Regions from separate parts of the Homo sapiens genome. Here region 2 is linked to region 1. Evidence: fine-mapped expression QTL. A gene starts in region 1. The other region holds a variant in brackets. All regions are shown on one strand. Distances are between the middles of the regions. Region 1 holds the start of SPTSSA (serine palmitoyltransferase small subunit A). Region 2 has its middle 83 kb from the start of SPTSSA.

Region 1 (2,916 bases):
GATAAGGCTTAGAATGAAATTACCTCAGTCACTCACTGGAATGCAACAATGCATTCGCAAAGTTATTCTGAAGTAAGCTACTCCAACTAAACCACACTGAAAAGGAGAGAACGTGGATAAACTAAACATGTTTTGTGAAATACCTGTTTTGTATTGGCCTGAGTTTTTTAAAAGTTACATCTCATTCATTATCAGTATTTAATCTGCAAGAATATCATCAAAGGATGTCAATATGGACAAGCAGAGACAAGAAACATCAGACTTTCAGGGAGCCTATCTTCACAACCCTGAGTTATTAACTGAAGTTCTCAAAGTTAGATGAGTTAAGATACAGACAACGTGCTTTGCACAAATGCTTTGCTTATAGTAACCACTCAATAGTCATTAACAAGAATTTATTAACTATCCACCAAAACACAGTTTCAAACCCTACCGACAACTAACCACAAATTGCACCACTTTTCGGGCCGACTTCTACGGACGGTGCACAGAAGCAATAAATACACTTTTAAAACTCCCCAACTTGAAGACCAAAAAGATACAATAACTTAAACTGCTTTCAAAAACTACTGGAGTGTCATGCCTACAAATTCAGAACCTGGCTTAAAAGCTAGTTAACTGACTAGAATTCTTGGTAGACCCAAAGCCAACTAAATCAGGAACACTTAAAGGTCAAAGGCGTCCAAGCCGGGAGCGATGTGCTCCACTGTTACATGATCCCCGCCTCCTACAGGAACAGGGGACTGAACCAAAGGCAGTTGCGGCCGAAGTGCAGGCGACACACAGGGTTACACATCACCTTCGGAGATTTCCTCCAGGAATCAAGACGCTTCCCCCTTGGGTCCAGCGACTCACAGGTGACCCCGGATCTCAAGAGTTCTCGTCTCCCCCACCCCCCACTTAACCCCGCGAGCGCCGCCCTCGGCCCCCAGACCTCCCCCTGCACCCCCGGCTTCCGCGCACAGGACCGGCGGGGCCGCCGCTCCAGCCTCCACCCCAGGCCCGGGGCCTGGGGAAATGCGGCCCCGCGGCCCGCGCCCCCAGCCCGGCCCCCGCGCGCGCGGCCGGGACAGGATACTGAACACCGTCCGCTCCCAGGGCTCCAGCATGTAGAGCGCCGTGACCAGCAGGTACTGGTAGTAGAACCAGGACATCTGCTTCCAGGCCCGCGCCAGCGCCATCCCCGCCATGCGCCTCCCGCGATGCAGCTCACACGTCAGTCTGTCCGGCCGGCCGCCCGCTCACGTCCTAAAGCCCCCGGCCGCCAGGCCCGCCCGCCCGCCACCCAGCGCCCATTGGCCCGCCCGGCCCCGCCGTCACCCGCGGCACGCCCAGACCCGCGCGCGCCCCGGCCGCCGGCCCCCAGCCCCGCCCGACCCGCGCTCATTGGCCAGGCCGCTACCTCGCGTCGCGTCGTCCCCTCCCGTTTCCCCGCCCGGGCATCGCCCACGCTAGCCGGAGAACGGTCCCCGCGAGAGCGCCCAGCCGCGCCCCACCCCGCCCGGGCCGGCCGGTGGTGGGCGGGGCGTCAGTGCCGGCCGGGGTCCCGGGGCCCCCGCAGCCCAGCGGGCGCTCGGTCCGTCCAGACTGGCCCAGAGCGCTTGCGGAAGAAATATTTCTGGAACACTTGTTATGCCTCAGGCATCCTTCTGAGAAGGAGGATTGCCAGGGAGAACCGGAATGCCTTCGGTTCCTTACCTTGTGCAGCTGGCGGCCTAGCTGGGAGACAAGCATTAATCAAGTCGTGATCCGTGTAAGAGGAGATAAGGGGCTGAGAGAGGGTGAGGAGGCGAACGCCACCTAATAAGGAGGTCTGGAAAGGCGTCCTTGTAGAAGGGATGCACATTCGGCCTCCTTCCTCCCTTCCCCCACCCATGCACACACACACACACACACACACACACACACACACACACACACACACCCCTAGACGGACATAACCCATGCACTCCCTAACCCAGAGACCACTTACCAAAAACATCTATCTGCCCACCTCTTAGTGGCTGTAGGTAACCACCAAGTGGGTCAAGGCCAGAAGCGCGCTGATCTAGTGGGTTCTGCAGAAGACAGGCAGCTTGAGATTGGTGTGAGGGCTGGTGATACTTCCCTAGAGATGCACTCCTGGATGCCCAGATTTTCCCACTGCCAGATGGGCCAGCAACATTGCACTGGCCACAAGGAGCTCCATGCACTGGTGTAGCATGTGAACTGCCACAATTAAATGGCCTGCTGTTTAAATGTTAAAAGTCTTCCAGGTTAAACATACTACTGCTTAAACTTTAAAAGTTTCATGGTTAATAACTATTCATTAAAAGTACCAAGTGCCGGCCAAGCGCCGTAGCTCATGCCTGTAATCCAAGCACTTTGGGAGGCTGAGGCTGGCGGATCACTTGAGTCCAGAAGGTCGAGACCAGCCTGAGCAACATGGTGAAACCCCGTCTCTACCAAAAAAAATAAGTAAATACATAACAAAAAGTTAGCCAGGGGTGGTGGCGTGCACCTGTAGTCCCAGCTACTCAGGAGGTTGAGGCGGGAGGATTGCTCGAGCACGGGAGGTCGAGGTTGCAGTGAGCCAGGATGGTGCCACTGCACTCCATCTTAGGTGGCAGAGCAAAAGAAAGGAAAGAAAGGAGACAGAGAAAGAGAGGAGAAAACAGAAGAGAAGAGAAGAAAAGAAAGAAAACAGTAAGTAATATCAAGTGCCAGACATTGGGATAGCAAGCCAGATAGACTGAGACCTGCCTTCATAAAGTACCCAGTCTGCTGGGGAAGAGAGGCAAGTTAATGGATTACAGTGAGGTGTGGTAAATGATATTTTTGTGGATCGTATCCTTTAGGATACCAAGATAGCCCAGACAAAATCAGATTGGGCTTGTGAAAGTCTTCTGAGAAATGGTGCTTGAACTGAGTGTTGAA
Region 2 (2,916 bases), 83 kb before region 1:
ATACTATCCCCTCCACCTCTGTAACAACCCCTCCCCACACACTCCTCCTAGAGAAGATATGTCTGTTGGAAAGCTTTGTCTGCATTGCCCAGATCTACTAAGAAGCTCCATTTCTCCGATTTTCTCATTGGTCCAGATATATAACCTCATGAAAGCAATTTATTTCTTTGTATTAAATTATTTGTTTATGCAACTGCCTTCCCTGCTGACTATGAGATTCTTAATGACATGGACCTTGTTTTTAATTTGGCTTTTTTTAAGTGCCTAGTCCATTCTGAGTTTATAGTAGGCACTCAACAATTGCTTATTTTAAAATTGACAGTCATCCCAGTGAAATTGTTTATTTCTTTGTTTTTAAGGACTTTAATTTCCAAATTATAAAGAGCTATGACCAGCTAAAAATAGGAACAAGAAAAGAGACTGGGAATGTGAGCGACTGCAGGAAATGAATTATTTGAAAGTCAAGCCTTTGGCCTTTTCCTTCTCAACGATGAGATAAACCCCAGCCTTCAAAGAATGTTGGGTAAAGTGGGGATGGGTGGGTTAGGGGGTTGAAATGCAAAGCAGGAAACAAGCTCATTTTGGATATCAAATTAATTGTATTGGACTAAGGAAAATTTACCCACACCCCTATGTTCTAACTCTATGATTTTAAAAATACAATATTCTATGCACACAGGAGGTGGTAACCAATGGGAAAAGGAGGAGACTGGTGCCTTCTCAATCTCTGACAAACAATCCAAAGATTGTAGAGATCCAAACAAAAGGATCTCTACATGAAGCACTATTGATACCAAAGAATCTGGCCTCGAGGAGGGATTCTCCACATTTTGCATACCACCAATCACTCTCAAAAAGCCGAGGTCCCATCCACTGCATAGCAAAAGCCCATTTCTGTTTTGTTTTGTTTCTGAGACAGAGTCTCGCTCTGTCGCCCAGGCTGGAGTGCAGTGGCGCGATCTCGGCTCTCTGCAACCTCTGCCTCCCAGGTTCAAGTGATTCTCCTTCCCCAGCCTCTGAGTAGCTGGGATTACAGGCACGTGTCACTTCACCCGGGTAATTTTTGCATTTTTCGTGGAGACGGGGGTTTCACCATGTTGGCCAGGCTGGTCTCGAACTCCCAACCTCAGGTGATCCACCCACCTCGGCCTCCCAAAGTGCTGGGATTACAGGCGTTAGCCACTGCGCCCTGCCACAAAAGCCCATTTCTTTAGAACACATTTATATGTTTAACTTCTTCTTATAATTATGTTTATGATACAGAGTAAGCTTCAAGAACAGAACAACAACAAGGCAGTGGGATTGTTGGAGCGAATTCCATTATGACTTCTTGCTAGCTGTATGAGAACACTGTGGCCAGAGCTCAGGAGGCCTCCAGGGAATACCTTGCTCTGGGAAACACAGGCTTTGATTCAGGCGGCATTGAGAAATCCTTTGAGGGAGACCTCCCATCTGCTGATGAGAAGAATGCTTCCCTCTCATTCTTGGCACCCTCACTTGGCTGGCAAGGTCAGGTGTGTTTTTCCAGTGACTAGCTCACAGCAGGGATAGAGGAGAGAAGCCCTTGGGGGCTGAGAGAC[A/T]AAGGGAACCAGACTGCCCAGCGTCTGGTCAAGGTTTCCAAGGTCTTTTTCAAGGTTTCGTTTCCCAGCACTCTGTCTTCAGTTTACCAAGAAAAAGTTCGTAAAAAGAACCTCTTTAGTGGCCTTTGAAGAAGGATAGAGAGAGGGAGGCAGAGTCCAAGGGCCCTGTGAGCAGAGTGGGAAGGACATGGAGAACAAAGAGGCTCACATGATGGGGTAACTAGGGATTGAAGATATCAATCACCTTTGAGAAATAAAGTAGAAAAAGAGAGAGAGGGGAGGAAACACACAAATACCAGAATGGACTAGTGTATACCAGCTATTCAGCTAAAAAATGAAGAAAGAAAATGGACAGCCAGAGACAGCCTTTGAGAAGTTTGTTGAAAAACTATTTTAGATGAACTACCATAAAAGTACTGTTAACAAGTAGGAGAATTTTAAGGGGAACATTAGAAATTCAGCCTCCTGCATTCGTTTGTAAGGGACAAGGAACTAGTCACGCAGTGGAGATGAGAGATAAGCCAGGAATGAAATGAAAACTTTGAAAGTTCCATGCATAGGGATAGCAGGATAATGATTTAAAGCATGAAGGCAGTAATTTAGGTCTAAAATGTCACCACCATTAATTGTAAGTTTTATTGTAGTCTGTTAGGGAAGAGTTCTCTGGGGATTATGAATAACTGCTTCTTGAAATGGAAACTGCAAAAACAATTGACATTTCTACAATCCTTAAGGAATAGAACTTTGAGAAAAATGACTTCTCAGGTGGCTATCTGAACATCAGTGTCTGAATAACTAACATTCATCCTTGCTTTATGTCACCCTCATTAATCAGTTCATATTAAAGATAACGCCATACATGTAATTATAGGCATAGCATTACGTTAAGCATTTAAGACTATCATATTGCACCATATCTTGGCCGTGGTGATGTATGGCCCCAATTTGAGAACACGTGTCAATTTTCCATAGATTTTCATCTGTATTCATGACTCAAGGGCCTTTAGCAAATTAATAATCAAAAGAATTTACAGTAGGCTGCTTTGTAAGTCCACACTTCATTACTTAGCATACTTCTCACTTGTTTTAGCTCTTAAAAACTTGTTCAGCTTCCTAAAAATATGCTTAACCTATTTTCCAATTGCCTTTGTTCCCGTGCTAGATGTTTGTTTGTTTGTCTGTCTGTCTGTCTGTCTTTAGAGATTTGGTAAGGGGGCGGGGGTCTCTCTATGTTACCCATGCTGGACTTGAACTCCTGGACTCAAAGAATTCTCCTGCCTCAGCCTCCCAAGTAGGTGGGACTACAGGTGAACACCACTATGCCTGGCTTGTTAGA

What was found. PIP is the estimated chance that this variant, and not a neighbour inherited with it, causes the effect.
Region 2: its variant is fine-mapped to the expression of SPTSSA in thyroid (GTEx, PIP 0.97).

Annotation. Positions count from the first base shown.
Region 1 is chr14:34,461,018-34,463,933 of GRCh38, forward strand. SPTSSA (serine palmitoyltransferase small subunit A) reads right to left here and starts at 1,223. Exons shown (of 2, transcript NM_138288.4): 1 at 1,079-1,223. The coding sequence starts at 1,190. RefSeq lists enhancers at 436-545, 1,086-2,036 and silencers at 946-1,115, 1,236-1,745.
Region 2 is chr14:34,378,191-34,381,106 of GRCh38, forward strand. No RefSeq gene overlaps it. Among named protein-coding and RNA genes, the nearest start is that of SPTSSA, 83 kb to the right of the region's middle. The variant A/T (reference allele first, on the strand shown) is at 1,581.